2 separate regions of the Homo sapiens genome follow, and region 1 is linked to region 2. A link means that fine-mapping ties the variant in region 2 to the expression of a gene that starts in the linked region. Tissue or cell type: whole blood. Region 2 holds a variant in brackets; the other region holds the start of a gene. All regions are shown on one strand. Distances are from middle to middle.

What was found. PIP is the estimated chance that this variant, and not a neighbour inherited with it, causes the effect.
Region 1: it holds the start of EFNA5, and the variant in region 2 is fine-mapped to the expression of EFNA5 in whole blood (TOPMed, PIP 0.95).

Annotation. Positions count from the first base shown.
Region 1 is chr5:107,665,122-107,674,400 of GRCh38, forward strand. It overlaps EFNA5 (ephrin A5), which reads right to left and starts at 5,816. Exons shown (of 5, transcript NM_001962.3): 1 at 5,368-5,816. The coding sequence starts at 5,492. RefSeq lists enhancers at 4,969-5,048, 5,449-5,578, 6,289-6,428, 8,169-8,668, 8,570-8,619 and silencers at 5,209-5,278, 5,849-5,898, 7,259-7,328, 8,700-8,779.
Region 2 is chr5:107,479,905-107,490,540 of GRCh38, forward strand. The region is part of intron 1 of EFNA5 (ephrin A5); the gene reads right to left. Among named protein-coding and RNA genes, the nearest start is that of EFNA5, 190 kb to the right of the region's middle. The variant C/T (reference allele first, on the strand shown) is at 4,417.

The sequences.
Region 1 (9,279 bases), 180 kb after region 2:
AATTTTCTGGCATATACTTATCCCAAGCTAGCAAAGGCCAGAACTCCTGAAGGACTAATTGTATTCATTCATTTTCTTGGCCCAGCGTGAAGCTGGTAGCTTGCTTGGTTCATAGCAACAGGGGAGAAAAGGAGGCGCCCATCTTTATGTCCTTATCCAACAGGAAACCAGGCCAGTGGACAGAATGCAGTGAAATGCCTGTTCAGAAGGTATTCTGCAAGATTAAATGGCAAGAAATTCACAAGGTTAATTTGCACCCAAGTAACTAAGTGTTCCCTCCAAACCTGATCCTCAGCCTTCAAAGGTGGAAGCTTCTGAAGCTACTGTCAGCCACAACACACATGACAACAAGATATTAGTTCAGTGAGCTGATGGTTTAGTTATTACCACTAAAATCACCTAACAGAGAGTAATAAACTACTGAAGACTCTGATACTTTTAATCACTAGTAGTTTACTGACCTTGGTCTTACCCTGAAAATGCCAAATTAGACTGTATAGCCAAATCTGCCTCAAATAGCTCTAATGTTCCTATCATCTAAAAATCAGACAGTTGAGTATTTCTGATAGTTTATTGTGAATATATAAAATAATGAATCAAATAGGTAGAACATATCTTAGTAGCTAACTCTGCTTTTCAAAATTCTATGGAAAACTCACCAAAAAACAGGAATCATACTTCTCTTTTACAAATTTCTAGATTAAAAAGGGGGGAGGGTCAATTCACGTCTCTTATAAACATATAAGCATAAAAACATGGGTTATAAACCTCAATCATACTGCCTTATTTTTAGCCTGGTACTTGCATAAATTCTGATCTAAATTTCAGAGTAACAAAATTACTACCAATACATCTAATAATGTGATACGTTACACTGAGGCTTAAAGTTAATGCCTTTTACTTGAAAAACATTTATGTTTCTAACATACAAAATATTACTTAAAATATTTAAAATTTCAAAAGTAAGGACAATCTAAGTTTTGTGATGAAACTCATTCAAGACCAAGATAAACTTTCAATCTTTACTCACAACAAATTCTTAGATTTAAACCATGCTGATTTCATTTACTTGTCAGTGAAAAGGTCACAGTGCCGGCATACTGGTATACATATGTCAAAATGATGATGGCTCAGATTTTTTTTAAATGGAGCAACTAAATTTTGAAAGAAGAAAAATACTCAAGGGAATATGATTAGGAAAAAAAAAATGTTACTACTTCTCTCTTCTTAGCCACATACATTTGACCTGTACTGCCAGAGGACTTGGGAGTGTTGACCTAGAATTCACATTACTTTCACAACTCCAAGATTACGTGTTAACAAAACTAAAAGGTGTCAATTACCTGCTACTCTAATATGAAATGTTTAATATACAAGTCCCTACAAGAATTGAAAAAGTCCAAAGAAAACATGATTAGGTTAAAGTTTAGTAAATCCTTCATGACTTACACAGATATTTTCCTCTTAAGAGTATAACCTTTTAAATTGATGATACTCAAACCTTAACAGAAGCAAAGCACCAGGTTGAGGACGACTGGTATTCCTAAAAGTGTGTTGGTCATATTTGCTGCTGTATTATTTGACTATTGCATCAATAATGCCAACCAGTAGGAGATATGTTTAATTACCCTAATATCATTTCAGCAAATAGTCAAAATAATCCAAGAAGAACTTAGAATACGCACATGATGTTTAAAAGTATATTCTTATTAGAAGCACCAAACTGCTTATGGCATACTTCAGATGAAGAGGCATGTTCTTAGTATTATGACTCTCTTTATAAGCATAGCTACTAAAGGAGAATGTAAATAAACTTTTATTACTGGAAGTCTTTTTAACTTTATTTAAAAGCTTTTTACATTCTTAAAGAAATTAAGGACAAATAGTTATATTCTTCTTGATGTGGATTTTCATTACTCAAAGTTACTTGGTGACATTCCAGTTTAGAATTCAGAATAATATTAAAAGGATGATTTGATTATTTACACTTTTAGGTAAAACTTATACAAGTTTTCAAATTTTGGAAATATAGAAGATCTATTTAGGCAAATGTTATCATATATTTCTATTCAAACTGATAGTTCTGAGTGGCTATTTCACAAATTTGTGCCAATTCAACACATAAAAAAATCAGTTTGGTCCCCTATCCAATAAATACTACCAACTAAAAGTTATCAGCATTTGAAAACTCAGTATCCACTTCTCAGAAGTGAATACCTGGGTACATAGATTGTAACAGTAAAACTATTCTGACAGCAAATAAATTTAATATTTTTTCCCGTGAAACTACATCTATAGATGCTCATTTATCAATGGAGAGGCAGTAATGAAACTCCATGTAGAAGATAAACTCCTACCAGATACACAAGTGACACAAGTTACACAGTAAGATACTGTACTTAATCCCTGTGATCAAGATACATTTAATTCTGATTTTACCTAAACATAATTTCAAATTGAATCTGTTAGTATAAGCTAAAGTAGATTTACTTCGTTTAGACACAGTGTACATTATCATCAGTTTAACGTGCCCACTGAACATATTATATTCTGAGGGAAAAATAAAAAAAATTATTTAAGTTGCAATTAAAGTCCTCTATTCTTTTTTCAAAAGATTGAAGTCTTACTAGTTTAGCAAAATTTTAACAGATAGGTTCTATATAAAGACACAAAGCATGGCTAGCTTACTTTATGAAATAACATACAGGAAAAGGAATTGCACAACAGTGAATTTATAAAATTTACTAAACCCGTGGAAATTTTCTGAAATATTTTCTTACTATTGTTTGTGGAAAACTGTTAGTTTTTATTTTTAAAATACTTATTTGGCATGTGGCCTCTTATATCCAAGTTGACTTTTCTTAATGCATCAAAAGAGCAACATCTTATTCAACACTTCAGAGATAAAACTGCCTACTTTTAAAATATTGTTTTTAAAGTAAGTTTTTAACTGTGATAACATACCAAGATAAATGTGTCCATAAATTCCTAAGAATAATAAGTGTTAGGGCTGTATCTCTTGGGGTTAAGAGGGGTACATCATTCTTTCTTTTGGCCATTATCAAACTGATAATGATCAAATAGAAAGGTAATTCTACAAACCTGAAGTTAGAATACCGATTTAGAAATACTCTTGGTATTTTAAAATTCTGCAGATTAACTTTGTCTGGGCAGGTTCAAAGCCTCCATGGCATCCTGAGCAGAAGAGTTTTCTGCAGGCAGGGCAGATCTATTAAAAAACATGACCTGTGACAAAAATCAATGTGCTAATCTCAAACCAAACAACAGTATCAAAAGCACAAAACAGAGATAACCTAAGATAAAATGTCCTCAAACTAACTCAGACTAGCTTGACAGGTTAAGAAGGGGGGTTAAAGTAGGGGTGTTGCTGGTTCTTTCCGTTTTAACCCAGGAAGACTGGAACACCCAAGTATCCAAATAAATGAATGCCATGAGAAAAAGATCACAATGTGGAGCTTGGTGTGGGAAAGAAAAGACAACCGAGAGCAAGATATCCCAAATTCAAAGAAACTATTTCAGTGTTGCTTTATTTAATAAGGTGCTAAAGTTCAGAGATACAAATTTCTGCTTCGTATATGCTGCCTAATAAAGCACAAACGGGGAAAAAAAACTAACCAACATAATGAGACTGGCTTTTAACACCATCACAACTGGAAAGCTTGCTCTATTTGTCTTGTCAGCTTTAATAAAAGGCATCTCTCCTCTGGCAGGATGGCTTCTTTTTCTCTTTTCCTAATAGTGGTAAGTGGCATGTCAAAGAAGAAATCGCTTCCCATTCCACCACCCACCTCCAGGAGACTCTTGTTTTTTGAACCAAACTTTCAGGAATATCTCCACTCCTGTTCAGCGGTTCATTTAGGACTTGGGCGGCTACCTGAGTAAGACTATCTTGGACTAGCGGGATAGGGGGAACTCCCTCCTGGTTCTGTAACCGGCGGACTGCTTGTGGGGAAATCTTCCCATCTTCATCTGCGCTGACATTATTCAAGCAGGGAATCCCTCTCTTGCCTGCATGCTGAGGGGAGGCTGGAGGCAGGCGGAGAGGGCCCGCAGGAGATAGAAAAAACTGGAGGCGCCCACCGATACCCTCTCTCCTGGAGCCCGGGGCGCGCACCAACTCTTAGGCTAACCCCTCGGCCTCCCGCCTCTCTCTTCCCAACTTCCACTCCAGCCCAGTGAAAAACCTGTGACTTTAGATGCAATCGGTACTATTAATAAATAGCACCTAGGAGGGCACCGAGACCGGCACACAGCTGGAAGCTAGCCTCTGTCCCAGAGAAAGCAGTGCGGTATGGGCCTAGCGGGGCCGACTTCTGTGCACAGGCCGGGAAGCAATAAAGGTTCGGAACTGCTCCAGACCCGGAGGACCCCGCCGGGCACTCTGGATAACCTCCCCACTCCACTTCCAGGGTCCGAAAACACGGGACGTCTGCGACTGGCCGGTGTCCAGCACGCGCACTAGGACCGCCCCCGGCGCCCACCTCTAGTCTCCCGCATACCCGGCGGGCTTCGGGACGCCTACAAATCGGTTCCAGGTAATCGCGCGCGTTCCTCCGGCAGCACATCGCCAGGCCGCGGGCGAAGGGCTCCCACCTCCTGGCTCGGCCAACTCTGGCAGCTTGTTCTGCACACATGACGTAACCCGGCATTAGATCAAACTTTCTGGCACCTTGAACCCACTGGGGTGGGTGGAGGGATGGAGAAGATGGGAGAATCCTCTCCACTGCCAGGCGCGCCGGGCCCAGACTGACTCAGGGGCCGAATGATTTCCTCGCAGTTGAAGAGGAAAATAAAAACCTAAAGCTTCCGCTTCCCAGCCCCCCTCACTTCCCCCAGCCCGTGCGCTCTCTCTGCGCGCACCGGGAAAAGAGAAGGGAAAATTAAAATTAAAAAAAAAAAAAAAAAAAAAAAAACTTTGGGGGATGTTTGGCGGGTTCTCTCCGCAGTCCCTGCGGACCCACGCTCCAGGAAGGAGCTCCCGGCTGCGCACACTGGGGGCTCCCCGCGCCGGGAACCGGATGCCAGCCAGATGCCGGGGCTGGGAAGCAGAGAAGTCCCTACTCCCCGGCTCCCGCCCTTTTCCGAGTCTCCCGGCGCCCCGCAGAAGCAGTTGGTCTAGGCAGCCCCGGGGACTCCCAGGGGTACCTGGCCTTTCCGCGGCGGCTTAACAAAGAGGGGCGCGACGCGAGCGCTTCCCGCCGACGCCTCAAGCCATCAGCGCCCGGGCGACGCAGGCTCCGAGGGTGCGCGCCGCCAGCGGTTGGTGCGCGCCGATCCCCGCCGCCGCTCCTTCCGCAGGGCCCCGAGGCCCGGGTAGCCCTGGCTCTCCGCCTGTTATCGGCTTACCTGGGGTTGCTGCTGTTCCAGTAGACAGCGTAGCGGTCGGCGACGGCCTTGGAGCCCGGGTCCTGGCTGAACACACACATCCAGAGCACCAGAAACACCAGCGTCAACATCTCCACGTGCAACATCACGCCTGGCCAGCGGCGGAGCCCCCGACGCGCCACTCCGGGGAGAGAGCGGGGATCCGGAGGGAGGGAGGCAGGCAAAGGGACAGAGAGAGAGCGGGCGCCAAATAAATATGAATAAATAAAAATGAAAGTGGGCGAGAAAGGAAAGAGGCGCCCACCAAGCTGGGGAGGGGTAGGAGAGCGAGAAGAAAAGAAGGCGGTGGGATGGGGGGTGATAAAGACAAACTCGCACCCCCACTGGAGGGTTCAGGAGGAAAAAGGAATCACAAGATGGAGAGAAGCGTGCGTGTGTGTGGTGGCGGCGGCGAGGGCGGGGGAAGAGGTGCCAAGCTGTGTCTCGGGCGGCGGCGGCAGGCCGGTCACCCCGGGAGAGGGAGGTGCGCGCCGGGCCGGGCGGCTGCAGCGCGGGTCGGGGCAGGCGGCGGCGCGCGCTGCACAGTCACCGGGAGTTGCGCGCCGCAGCCGCGGGGAGACATACACCGGCCCGCCGGGCCCGGCTCAGCGTCGGCGCAGCAGGCTACGCACGGCTCCGCCACCGCCCGGGGCCCTCGCACTGCGCCACGCTTCGCTCCAAGTTACTTTGGCGGCCGGTGGGAAACTGCAGGAGAAGGGCGACGTGCTGATAGAGGGCTTCGCGCTTGTGGTCCCGGGAGTCTGAGAACCCCTTTCCTCAGCCTCCTCTGTGCCTTAGCGGGGCGACCCCCAGAAATCTCAGAGGAGTCGTAAGTGCTGCGGTACCGGGCGGTGCGCCGAGAAGGGTGGGGATCCGGAGCCGCAACCCAGCCTTGTCGGTGTCCTGGAACTGGTTAAGCGGCAGCTGCGCCGGCTTTCGAAGCGGTCTTGCCTCGAAAACCTCAAAGAAAAGTTTGGCTCTTCGCGTCTTCCGGCAGGTCCCCCAGCAGAGTCGGAACGCGGCGGTAGCGGAAGAGGGCACCCCGGGGGCTGGCCGAGCCTCGGGGATTTCTCGCGCGTGCTTTCCTTGGCTGGGTGTGGGTGCACCACAGTGAATGAAGAGCAGAGGTTAAGACCAGCCGGCCTGGCAGAGCTGGGATTCCTAAACCTGCAAGACGACGCCAACCCAACTGTTCGGCTGGAGAGCGGGAGGGGAAACAATCACTTTCAAATGGATCCCTCCAACTCCTGGATGGGCCGATGTCAGTCTCCGATCGCCTTCCGAGAGGGAGACTGAGCCCCCACACGCGGTGCCAAGAGCCCGGGGTGAGCTCTCAGAAGTGTCCCTGCGACTCCAGCGGGTCCAAGCCTAGCAACTTGTAGAGATGCATCAATCAGTTTGAAATGGGAAAAGAGGAAAAAAAAAAAGCGCACGAGCGAGTGGCACCTCCCCGATGACTACATCAGAAAACCTTCCCGATCCTCCCGCAGCTGCTCCTCTTTCCCTCCTTAGGCACAGCAGCAACAGAGGTGAAAACCACAAACCGAATCCTAAAACCCCTACCCAGGCGGGAAAATAAATAAACTTGAGTGCAGCAGCAGCAGCACGAGCAGCCCAGGAGGAATTGAAACGACTGGCAAGAAGTGGAAAGGGTTTTGTAAAAGTCAGTTTTGCAAAAGAGGGGGAAAAAAAGAGAGCGAGAGAAAAAATGCTTTATGGGAAAAAAAATCTCCTCGGGCACGCCCCCTCGTTAATGACTTGCGTGGAAAGCCGACAGCGGCGGCGACCCAGTGGCAGCAGCCTCAGCAGAGCGCGAGGCCGCACGCGTGAACGTGGACGTGGGCGGGGGGATGGGGCTCCGCCCGGGCGTGTTGCGCGGGACGCGGGACGGGCGGGCGGCGCGAGCGCGGGTGTGAGCTCCGGACGAAGCAGGGGGAGGTGCCGCCAGCCCGCGCCCAGCCAGCGCTGCTGCCGCTGCGGCCCGGGTCATGTGGACTGTCTTTTTTTTTTTTTTTTTTTTTTTCCTCCTTCCAAGCAGTTTACTTGGGAAGGGTGGGAGCGCGGTGGGGGGATAGCTGGAGCAACCAGTCAGGGAACGGCCTACTGTTTGCTTACAGATTGGGGGTTTTTCCTCTCTCTTTACTCCAACCGGATTGGTTTGCTCCACGAGAAAGAGGCGTTTTCCTAATCTCCCTTCCCCACGCCTCCTACCCCCTCCCCCGCCCCACCTTCTAGAAACCTGACTAATTGAATTACTGGGAGTGCCGAGGCGCCCTCTCCTGCGCCGGAGCCCGGCAGCCACGTGTAACCCTTTGGGTGCTGAATTCCGTCTGGGCTAAGGAATGATTTGACATCTTTTTACCTGGGAGTAGGGTCTTTCGATTTTAAAGGAACCTGTGCCCACCCTTTGGCTGGAGAGCCGGCATCTGTCTCTGGTGCCCCGCAGGTGACGGATGGGCTGGAACGGAGCCTCAGGGAGTGCGCGTTCCTGTCCATTCCACCCGCTCTCCACGCCGCACGCTGCCTGGCGCTGGGTTATCTGGAAGTCTGAGCACCCCTCCTGTGCCTTTCAGCCCTCCTCTTCCCACTTGGGATTTAAAGATTCTTGGGCAGGAAGCAAGTTTTCTTTAAAGTGATGCTCTGAAAACACGTTTTTAAAAATCAGGCAAATCACAGTTTAAAGTGATTACAATTCAGCGCGAACCTTCCACAGAGAGGAAATGAATGCGGCAGACGAGCCCTTCAGAAATAACCTCACACCTCTTCCATTTCAACCTTGAGGGTGATTTGCTGCCCACTCCCCAAAGAATAAACGCCTTTATCGAACCCGGTGCGGAAAGAAATGAGGGCCGGGGGCGGGGGCTGTGGGAAGAAAAGCAGTTCCTTTATTGTTGGAAAAGGCCCCTCGGTCCTGGACTTCAAGGGCAGGTTGCAAGCCTGGTCTTCAGCCGCCACTGAAGAGCGATCTCCTGGCAGCGAGACTGTCCCAGCGCCTCGGGACGCGTCCCCACTGTCGTCCAGCGCCCAGGAAGTGAGCCCGACGCCTGCTCTGCGGGGCCACAGGCCCCCGAGACCCGCCCTTAAGGGGTCCGCGGGCTCGGGAGCAGCGGTATTTTTTCTCATGTTCCCTAGGGAGTTTTCTGCCTTAGTGGGAAGGGCAGATCCCCAGGAGAAAAAAGGCAGTTTACTTTTGCTCCCACACCTGCCTGCACTCCTTTTTACTTATTAGCCCAATAAAATCAAATCTCACGTTCACCCTCCTGCGCTTTCCAGTCCTCAGACGGGATTTCCAGGCGCTTCAGAGCTGTTTAGAAGCGTCCAGACGCCCTCCAGTGGTGGGCCTGCAATCCGCACCCAGCAGGGGCATTGCCTGCCGCTCAGGCCGGGTTGAATTTGATGGGAAATCTAGGGCTATGACCAATAAAGACTCGAGAGGAAAAGAAACAGTTCATAGGGGCACGGAGGTACCTGGATGTTATGGGCTCTTGGCTAAAAGTTAAGTCGTTTTTCAATTACAGTAATATTTCCTATCTGAAAAGATCCTGAAATCGTCCTAGGAAAGTAACTTATATTTTGTGACTAGATACAAATTGCAATCTGTACAATAATGGACTTTACCACAAACCAACCATCTGCCTAATTATTAAAAATTGAAATTCAGAATGTCGACACAAATGCTCCTCCATCATCTGTATGTTTCACAAAGTTCCAGCAGTGAGAAAGAAGTGGGGAAAGAAGTGAGAGAACCAATGGATAAGCTTTTATTTTTCAAATCAAATTTTCAGTTAAAATGTTATTTGCTTTTTTCCCTGGTCTGTAATCTTGCTGATGTTCAAGTTCTTGGCCCATTTTAGGGTGTGTGTTTTTTCTGTTGCAGGAAAGATGGATTTGTTT
Region 2 (10,636 bases):
CAGTATATTTTAAAAAACTAAAAAAGGAAAGAAGATTCTGAGTACAATACTCGTACTCTCCGAAATTACCCTTTTTCAAAAAGAAAGATTAAATACCAAAACTCAATTGAAATCATACTGATTTAATTCTACAATGTGATGTCTAAAACCTCTAAGTACCTGCTTATATAAGTAAAAACAAGTCATGAGAAAATAAGAATAATACATATTTCCATGTCCCAAGTGCCCCACCAATATGCTTCATATTCACAAAGCTCTAGTTAAAATGGGAAAAGCCAACAGATTACTATTTTAATATGAATGCTTAATGAAATATATACTAATACTCACATTCAATTTTTCCATAAATCAATGTATTGCTAAAACAGTATACACTTTTATCCACTCAATAGTCATTACTTTTATTTAAAATTAAATTCAACTGTATTTTGTATCTACCTACAACTTCTTGCCCTGTGAAGGGGTACAAAGATGTATCAAAGATGCTCTCTGCTTCTAAGAAATTGTTTATTAACTGGCACAAGAAATAGCATCAACTATAATATCTGGTAGAGTGTAAAAAAGGGTAGAGTTCAAGTTCCTAAAAATGTTAATGCGCCAGGCTATACGTAAAGCGCTGGCCTAGGCACTATATGGATCAAGACTAAAGACACAGGCACTGTCCTCAGGAGCATTCTAGTGGAGAGGGGAGGTATCCAATACACCAATTACGTGAATACCTGGCTTCCTTTCTTAAGTGTATAAAAAGCAAATAAAGCCTTAAAGACTGCTTCACAGAGCTCTCCATGAGCAGGGCTGGGGATACACAGAAGCCAGGGAAAACAGATACAAGACTCTTGCAGTCAGCGGTCCCAGAAAGACAAAATGAGGGCTTGTCCAAAGGCCTTGTACTGGGAGTGAAGGCAAGTGGAAGGAACGAGCAATGGGGACAAACAGGTCTCAAAGGGTGGGTGACTGCCTAGAAATGAGCAGAAGGAGAACTTGGAAATAACAGGTCTGAACAAAGAGACAGCTTTATATGACAGAATAAATAAGAAGTATGTTAGGTAGACAAGAGAAATAGATGTGGTCACTGACTTGTGGAGCCTGAGGAGCTGGCAGGGGACATTCAGCATAAATTTACTGAGCTCCTATTACATAGCAGGCACTGTTCTAGGATCCAGAGGTACAAGAGTGAACAAAACAAACTAAGAGGTGTGCAGCAAGCAACAGGGTAAAGTTAGACTCTCCTGCTGACAGGCAAAAGCCAGAAATACAGACTGAGAAGTGTCAACTGCAAATGAGAAAAACCCTCGGTTCTCCTGTATTCAGGAGAGTTTCAAGAAGAGAGAAGAGAGGCTACAACACTGAATACAGGAGTGAGTTGGGGAAACAATCTGGCTGGATGAGAACTGAACTTAACCGATTTGACATTTCTGTGACTGTTGAGATGGCCTTCTCCATCGCACTGGGCCAGGATCCAGCAGGAGGAGATCACAGCAAGTGTGCCTTTGAGAAGTTTGTTATTAAAATGAAATAAAGGATGGTATTTTGATACATAGTTCTCTGAGAATACAGAGAAAGTAGTGATTCATTCTGACCAGGAGATCTGGGAATGCTGATGGTTGGCAGTGAGGATGTCCTCTGTTTTTGAACAATAAATGCAGGAAAAGAAACTGAAAAGAATGCCAGGTATGGTGGCTCATGCCTGTAATCCCAGCACTTTCGGAGGCCAAGGTGGGTGGATCACAAGGTCAGAGTTAGAGACCAGCCTGGCCAACATGGTGAAACCGTGTCTCTGCTAAAGATAACACAAATTAGTTGGGTGTGGTGGCACACACCTGTAATCCCTGCTACTCAGGATGCTGAAGTAGGAGAATCACTTGAACCCGGGAGGCAGAGGTTGCAGTGAGCTGAGATCACCCCATTGCACTGCAGCCTGGGTGGTAGAGCGAGACTCCATCTCAAAAAAAAAAAAAAGAAAAGAAATGGAAAAGGGATGATAGAGAGTCAGGGTTACAATAAGGTCTCATTACAATACAGCTTTAAACATTAGAAAACAAACACTGTCTTGTGTAATCATACACTTCTAAGTTAGACATATTTCTGAACAAGATAAAATGTGCTACATAAAAATAAATGCTGGCTGGGCGTAGTGGCTCATGCCTATAATCCCAGCACTTTGGGATGCTGAGGCAGGTGGATCACTTGAGGTCAGGAGTTTAAGACCAGCCTGGGCAACATAGGGAAACCCTTACTAAAAATACAAAAAATTAGCCAGGTGTGGTAGCATGCGCCTGTGGTCCCAGTTATTGGAGAGGTTGAGGTGGGAAAATCACTTAAGCCTGGGAGACAGAGGTTGCAGTGAGCCGAGGTCGTGCCACTGTACTCCAGCCTGGGTGACAAAATGAGTTGATCTTGTCTCAAAAAAAAAAAAAATGCTATTTTTGTTTAAATTAGGCAAATATACTTATCTGTTATTTAAGACTAAAAACCTGATTTCTTGGTCCTCCATCTAGAAAATAGTCTGTTTTAAGACAAGGAAATAGTTCTTGTTTAAACTAGAGAATGAGAAGTCTGTCAGACACATGGCCCCACTCTTGCTCCAAGTCCTTCTCACCTATTCTCAGATAAGACCCAGATCTTGGGAAACAAATTAAGGGCGCATCTGCTGGATTGGACCTAGCTGCACTGGGAGTTGCCAGAGTGCTCTGAGCAGCATCAGGAATTCCTCTGGGCCTTGTCGTGATATCATTTGCGCAATGTAGCCTGTGATGGCAGAAAATTAAGCTGGTATTTATACAGGGTATTAGAGAAGGACCCTCCCTGCACCAGGCTTAAAGTGACAAAATGTCAGCCTCAATCATCCCACAGGCTTTGGTCTCCCTCTGTAACCTCTTTCTTTTTGGCTGCTCTCTCTCTCTCTCTCTGTCTCTCTCTCTGTCTCTGTCTCTCTCTCTCTCTCTCTCTCTCTCTCTCTCTCTCTCTATATATATATATATATATATATACATACATATATACACATACACACACACACACATACATATGACACTAACAGAAAAATAAATTGAAAAGAGCACTGAGGCAGAGTGTATTTCACGCACTGGTGCCAATGTTTCATATCTCATGAACCTCGGGAAAACAATTCGTAGAACTAATTAGTTTACAGTGTTTAAGCAGCTTGTTCCTCGTCTTTAATCTTCTTTATGTAATAGTGTGAACAAAGCCATATTATCTTCTGATTTTTTTATACAGTTTAACAAATATAATCTCCCTTTTCTTTCCAGAGATTACTTCATTTAGACATCAAACTATGTTGTTGTTGTTTTTTTCCCCTGGGGAGAGGGGATATAAATAAATTGACATCTATTCACATAGGTCTCAATGGTCTACCAGATCCACCCAGGCCCTAATCCTCTTTGTTGTCATGGAATCCACCTGGCTTAATTATATTTACAGTTTTCAACGACACCACATGGCATGCAGGTTTTCCCTGAACTCTGCACATCTTCCCGAATCCTAGCTATAAGTCACACTCCAGCTGCTGTATCCGTCTCGGATTCTAGACGGTGACAAGGCACTCTTGCCTGAAACTCAGCATCAGGTCCTCAAAGAATAGAGCCTGGATAAATCTCCCCTCCAGTATTTTTATAGCCTACTAAAAGAACATGATTTAAGAGAACTCCTGACCTAAAGCCAGGGGATGGGAAATAGATACATATGTGTACAAATTAGTTGGGTGGTCAGGGGAGCAAAGAAGAACAAGATACTTAACTTACAAAAGTTTTATCTTAAAATACTGCTCACAAGTATGACTTTTAAGAGAAATTGAACTTTTTGTGCTTTCTGATTCTAGATAAATATTTAGTTGCTAAGCTGCTGGAATGCTATGAGATACATTTTGGGTAGAGTCAAACTGAAATCCAAGAACTGGGTAAGGCTAGTGTTGAAGTAATTATTATTCATCTGGTGGGTGATGCTGCACACAAATAACTACTTGCACTGCTAAGGATTTGGAGCAGAGTTACTCCCTGAGAGAGACACTTTTCAGGTGGCAGAAACCTACCTCAGACTTTTATTTATACACTGGAATCCACATTATTAAAGAATTTTACAGTCTTGGAAAAACACAGGACTTGGTGCAAACTTTCATTTTGCTTGCCTGAGAACTGTGTACTGTCCCATGGTACCCATCTGCCTTAAAGTTCACTCTGTCCTTAATTGTCAAACAGATTCATGGTAACTCCTAATTAGTGCAAAACAGGTAACACAGCTGCGACTCTGCAACTGCTGAACACCTTTAGCATCTATATCAAGCTAAGCTCAGGAGCCCTCTCTGCTCTCTCCCAAGGTTAATGGTTTCGAGTCTTCTGAGAATTATGGAGTAGGTGCCCACAGTGAGAGAGGGCGCCTGGTTCTCCAAGCCGCTGTTCC[C/T]ACTACTAATAGAGTCAGCATAAGAAGCAGCCAGTTTCCAGCAACGGTAACAATGGAGAAATTTCTCTTACTGCACAGCTGCCAAATAACTTTGAGGATCTGATTCAGAACTAACATGGAAGATTTAAATGGATCCATTGCAACAGACGTTTTGCATGTTGGCACACTGGAATTAGAGGAACTAATCAGAGCCAGAGTGGTACCAGATGGTCTCTTGAGAATTCTTCTGAGTTTAAGATATGTGAGCCAATGAGACAAACTGTATAATTGCCCAAGATTTTACTCTAAGAGCACTGGCACTGGGAGTAAGACCACTAGGAAACTCAGCTCTGCCACTTTCCAGCTGTAGGACTTCAGGCAAATTAATTAAATAGGATGGTGGTGAAGAATTAAGTGAGATACTGTATCTAACACTCAGGGTACCTAGGTAGAGCACAGGGAAGATGAGGAGCTGTTAACTGTGATAGTTATGATTTTGTATTTTTTTTTTTTAGATTTCTGAGTTGAGGAATATTTGCAAGCAGGTACAGTAATTACCCAATTCAGATGTTTATAGAAAAAGAAACACATCTTAAAAATAAAGGTACCACAAAAAACAAGAAGTAGAAAATTGGAAGATGGAGAGATGAAAGAAAAATGAAGAAATTTCAGAGAAAAATGAAAAAACAAAGCAGATTTTAAAAAGAAAAAGAAAAAAAGGTAGGAAATACAAATTAAGAAATTTCAGAGAAAAATGAAAAAACAAAGCAGATTTTTTTAAAAAAAGAAAAAAGGTAGGAAATACAAATCTAAGAGGAGGGTTTGAATTCCTAATCCTGTTCTTTTTCCTTGCACTTCTATTCAAATCCCTTTTCTGCATCTCAACTTTTGTCTGCACTAGATGGTCCAATTCTAGCCAGACTTCAACTTGTAGCAGTCCCAAGGTAGAAATGACTAGAAAAAAGAAAGTTCCCTCTTAGCTATGAAGAATGAAAAACATTAAAATGCAAATTCAATGTAAAAAAGAAAGCAAGACTATACACACATTTCACAGTAGCAAATTCTCAGGCAGAAGTGGAAGCCAGCAAGTAACCCCCTGAGGTGTGCTAGTGTAACTGTTTCAAGTTTTGGGGATGACAGATAAACAGCAAGTCCTATTACTACTGAATGAATCTCTCTCTCTCTCTCTTTTTTTCTCTGGGAAGAAAATGTTTGTGATAGAATTGGTCCTTGAGAAAGAGTGAATTGATCTGTTAGCTTTCTGTGCTGGACCAGAAATAATTATTGCCATACCTACTTCCTATGGATTATGTTCAAAAGTTAGAGATACTCACTTATTCTGTCTTTATGCTATGGGGAACTAATCGGAACTGGGGTTTGCTTCACTGACTCTCACTTATTTTAAAAGTCAGGCTTAGTAGGAAAGAAAAAGTCAAAGAGATTGACCAAGAAAGGATGAAATGTTCGGTCTAGGTAAACAAACACTGTCTCAGATAAAGTTCTCCACGGGTCTCGACCTCACCTTCTACTGCGTATGAATTCATTTTACAATGTTCGTTTTTTTTAAGCTAGATCTTTGTGTGCTTATTTTCAACAGGGGATGACAATTGATTTGTTTTCTATTGAACCTCGCCAACTGGATACTGAAGCGAGCACGGCATATTTAGATGCCCTTAAACTTTCAGGTTCACCTTTAAAACGTGCCAAGACAATGTCATGTTGAGGGTAAATGTGCAATTTTCACTAGGCTGAGACGAGAAATGAGTGTCTCGCAGGTGAAATGACATTAAAGGCGTTACAGTAAAACAGAGACCAATCCTTATTGATTCATTTTAACTCAAATAAAATTCCAATAATTTGATGGACATGAAATAGCAAACAAAGGAAAAAACAAATCAGATGATTCCTGAGTGTGTGTGAAAGAGCACCCAGGCCCTGCTAGAAAAAAGCCACACTGCCAAATTCAACCCTATGTATATTCACAGGCACTTATTTAGCCTACCGGCTTCTCCTTCAGGAGTAGGACTGGTAAGGAACTTTAAAAGCTAAAAGATATGGAAGATACAACCTAATCAGGTTCAGGTAGCTAGAGAAACAAGACACACCCATAAGAAAGAACTTATGATGATAATTCTAAAAAAAAATGCATAACTACATAGTGGAGAGTGGTTCGGGTAACTTATGGAAATCCTGAGGCTATAAAAGATAAAAGAAAGACATCAGTTTATAGAGTTCACCCATATCTAACTTTCTTCTCCTTCTGGGCGTATGAGAGTATTATACCTCTCTACTACCTTAGAGTTAGGCAGAGTTGTGGGCGGAAGGAACATGAGTCACTTTTGGGCTGAAGCAAGACTCTTCAGTGTTCTCTTATGTGGTGGTTTGTGTTGAGATGACAAAACCACAAGACTGAAGAGGCCTCTATCATTGAGTCACACACAGATAATAGTTACCTGCCTTAATAAACTCTGTCAAACCCCTGAGATCCTGGGGCTGTTTGTTACTGCAGCACAATATATTCTGTCCTGACAAATATAGATACCAAGGCAGGGAGGAGCTAGAGAAAGTTACTATGAAAAGAATTTTAGGGTCTCCTCAGTGTATTTATACTTTAGTTTCCTTCCCCCTTTGGCTGACCTGTCTGCCTCCAATATCTCTCAAATACTCCACATTGCTGCTAGAGCATTCTAAGACCTACATCTGTTCACATCTCTGTTTGAACTTCAAATGGAATCGCCTGGCACAAAAGATAAAGAACAACTTCCTTAGCATAGGGTCAAGGCCCATGGTATCTGGCTCTGTTTCCCAATGTTATTTTTGCCCACTAGTTCCCATCCTGTATTCCTGCCGTCAGCACTCTGATTGAGCCACATTCTGCTCTGCCTCCATGAACTGGGACACACTGCTGTGCCTGTAATGGCCCCCACTCCCTCTTCCCCCCGGGTGAACACCTAACCAACTTCTGGCAGGATTCACTTCCTCTGTGAGGCCTTCAGCTCCTCTCTCCTCCCTCAGCACTTTGTGCATTCTGTTACAAAACACTGTTCCTTAAAAACTTTGTTTAATCCCCTTCCAATGGATAGTGAGTTGCTCAAGGCAGTGAGTGATTCACTTTTGTTTCCCCCAGAGCATCTAGCACAGTATCTGACAAGCAGTTAGTATTTGCAGAAATAATGAATGAATAAAGGAAAGAAGGAATATCTGCATGGCTGTGTCCATGAGAGTATTAGGCAGATGACAGGGGCAGAGTAGAGGTTTGTTGGATAGAAGTAAAATGTAAATGTAAGCAGCCAGCAGGTGTCAAATTACAAAGAATGAGAATTTTTCACTTGATCCAAAAGGTAATAGGGAATCATGATAACTTCATGAGCAGCAAAATGATAATTTTGTTCAGCCCTGTAGCACCTTGTGCCTTGAATGTCAGCTATGTTTATGCCAATCTTATTCCCCCTTGGACTGTAAAGCTCCTTGAAAACAGGGTTTGTGTCCTAATCATATTTGTATCCCCTATAGCAACAAGCACAGTGTTTGTATAACAGGTGCCAACAAATATTTGCTGAATTTAATTTTACAAAGATTACTCCCTATGCGATGAGGCTGGATAGACCAGCTAGCAGACTACTGTATTATATCCAACATTACATGGGAAATGGACTTAAAGGGGAGTATTGCCTATGGAAATGTGAAAATAGAAATCTAAGATGGTCTAATATTCCAGTCAGCAGCCTTTAGGGTCTCTAATATCAATTAATGTTTTGAGCCTGGGGTCCCAGAAAAATGGTGGTCTATTTAAAACACAAATGTTGAGAGGAAGATTTGCTTTTCTCAGGGAGTACATGAGTCCCATGTGGGAGATAACAAAAGAAAATATACTAGAGCTAAAAGCAGCTAGAAATACTAACCGCTGTATACAAATGTTATCTTATCCCCCATCTTGCGGCTTAGTTCAATTTTTTTATTGATTGATTGATTCATTCACTCACTCATTGGTTTTATTTTTGTAAATTTCTTACATTGTATAAAGTAATGTTTCTGAAGTTTATTCAAGTCTATTTAGATTATTGTCTGTTTCACATTAATCCCCAAAGTCAAAGACGGTGAGTGAAGTAAAGAAATGATGTGCTAGACTCTTCTGCTTTGGGTTTCCCAGATATCTCTAGTTATTCTCTATCAGAAAGGGTTTGCAGGGGCTTCCTCTTGTTGAAGTACCCTTTTTAAAACTCCAGCTGTCAGCAGGGAATCCTACAAGCATCAAATTATTTTACAAATCCCAAGTTTAAAAGAGCACTCCATTCAGAAGCTATACCTGGTTTTATTATGACTCACTTCTTAAGAAGACACACACACACAACTAGTGAGCCCTTAAAAGAAACATTAAGACCGAAAAACAAAAAAACTCTTTTTTTTTCCAAGACAGCGTCTTGCTCTGTCGCCCAGGCTACAGTGCAATGGCACGATCTCAAATCACTGCAACCTCTGCCTCCTGGGTTGAAGCGAGTCTCCCGCCTCAGCCTCCCAAGTAGCTGGGATTACAGGCGAGTGCCACGACGCCTGGCTAATTTTTTGTATTTTTTAGTAGAGATGGGTTTTCACCTGTTGGGCAGGCTGGTCTTGAACTCCTGACCTCACGATCCGCCTGCCTTCACCTCCCAAAGTGCTAGGATTACAGGCATGAGCCACTGCGCCCGGCCACAAAAAAACCTCTTTTAAGATACTGTCCAAAGCCTGTACCTGAGGGATTCAGTGTTATACCTCCCAAAATAAAATATGGATTTAAAATTCAAGGTATATATAATAGGTTATCAATAAGTTAACTATTACCATCATTACAATATTTCATTTAATCTATTGCAAACTCATGTATTGGACCAGACAAAATTTGTTTGTTTATTTAGATGGAGTCTTGCTCTGTCACCCAGGCTGGAATGCAGTAGGGCAATCTTGGCTCACTGCAACCGCCGCCTTCCAGGTTCAAGCATTTCTCCTGCCCCAGCCTCTCTAGTAGCTGGGATTACAGGCACGTGCCACCATGTCTGGCTAATTATTGTATTTTTAGTAGAGACAGGGTTTTACCAAGACCAGGCTGGTCTCAAAATCCTGACCTCAGGTGATCTGCCTGCCCTGGCCTCCCAAAGTGCTGGGATTACAGGCATGAACCACCGTGCCCGTCCTGGACCAGATAAAATTTAAACCAAACTTAACAGATTAAAATTTTCTGTGGGTTAATGTTAAAATCATACCTAAAAAAGTTTTAGTCCAATGTGAACCTAAGTTCACATTCTAAAAGGTACCTGGAACCTCAGGTGCCTTCACTGGACCCTAAAGCTTCCAAGCATTTTGTGATTGATTTGACCCCACCTACCCCCCCCACCAAGATCTAACACTAATGTTTCATTCCTGCAACTGAACATTATCAGTTTTTCATATCATTTATTTGTGGCAAAATGAGAAAACATATCCATAGCAAGGACTATGTACAGGAAAGTTCTCTGAGTGGCCTTGCACTGACTCAGTTATGCTCTTTCTTGCTTGTAGCTCTCAAGAATAACTGTACCAGTGTGCTAGGAATGCAACATCCTGAGATAAGAGGGGACCTGGCTGAAACAGCTGGACTTAGTTCCAATGTCCCCAGAACAGGATGTCCTTCAACACTTTAGCCCAGAAGATCTCATGACTCAGGGTATAAAACCCAGGGTGGGTGGATCTCCAGGGTCCCTCAGCTGGGGTACAAGTGGGGCATGCAGGGACAAGATTCCATCTTTCCTTGGCAGCTTGCTTGAACCATGGGGGACCAGCTAGCTAGCAATTAATTCTAGGATTATGTTATTCCTTGATGCCTATCTATAGATAATAAACCCGCTTTGTATAACTTGTGTGCTTGGGTGTTCTGTCTCACTAGACTCAGAGAAGTTGGTAACCAGTGCATAGTGAACTTGCTTCACACTATGTCATTTATTTGTTTATTTATTTATGTATTTTAGTGACCTGATCTTCCTATGGTGCCCAGGTTAGACTCCAACTCCCTAGCTCATGGGATCCTCCTGCCTCCACCTCCCAAGTAGCTGAGACTACAGGTGCACGTTACCATGCCCAGCTATTGCTTTTAACACATCCCACCCATGCTTTCAGTTAAACAATTATTCTATCTCCCTGAATTGCGTGACATTTTCCAAAAAAAGAATCATCAAATGAATCCTTTCAAAAGAAATCAAGCATCTCTTGCATCCTCACCCTGCAGCAT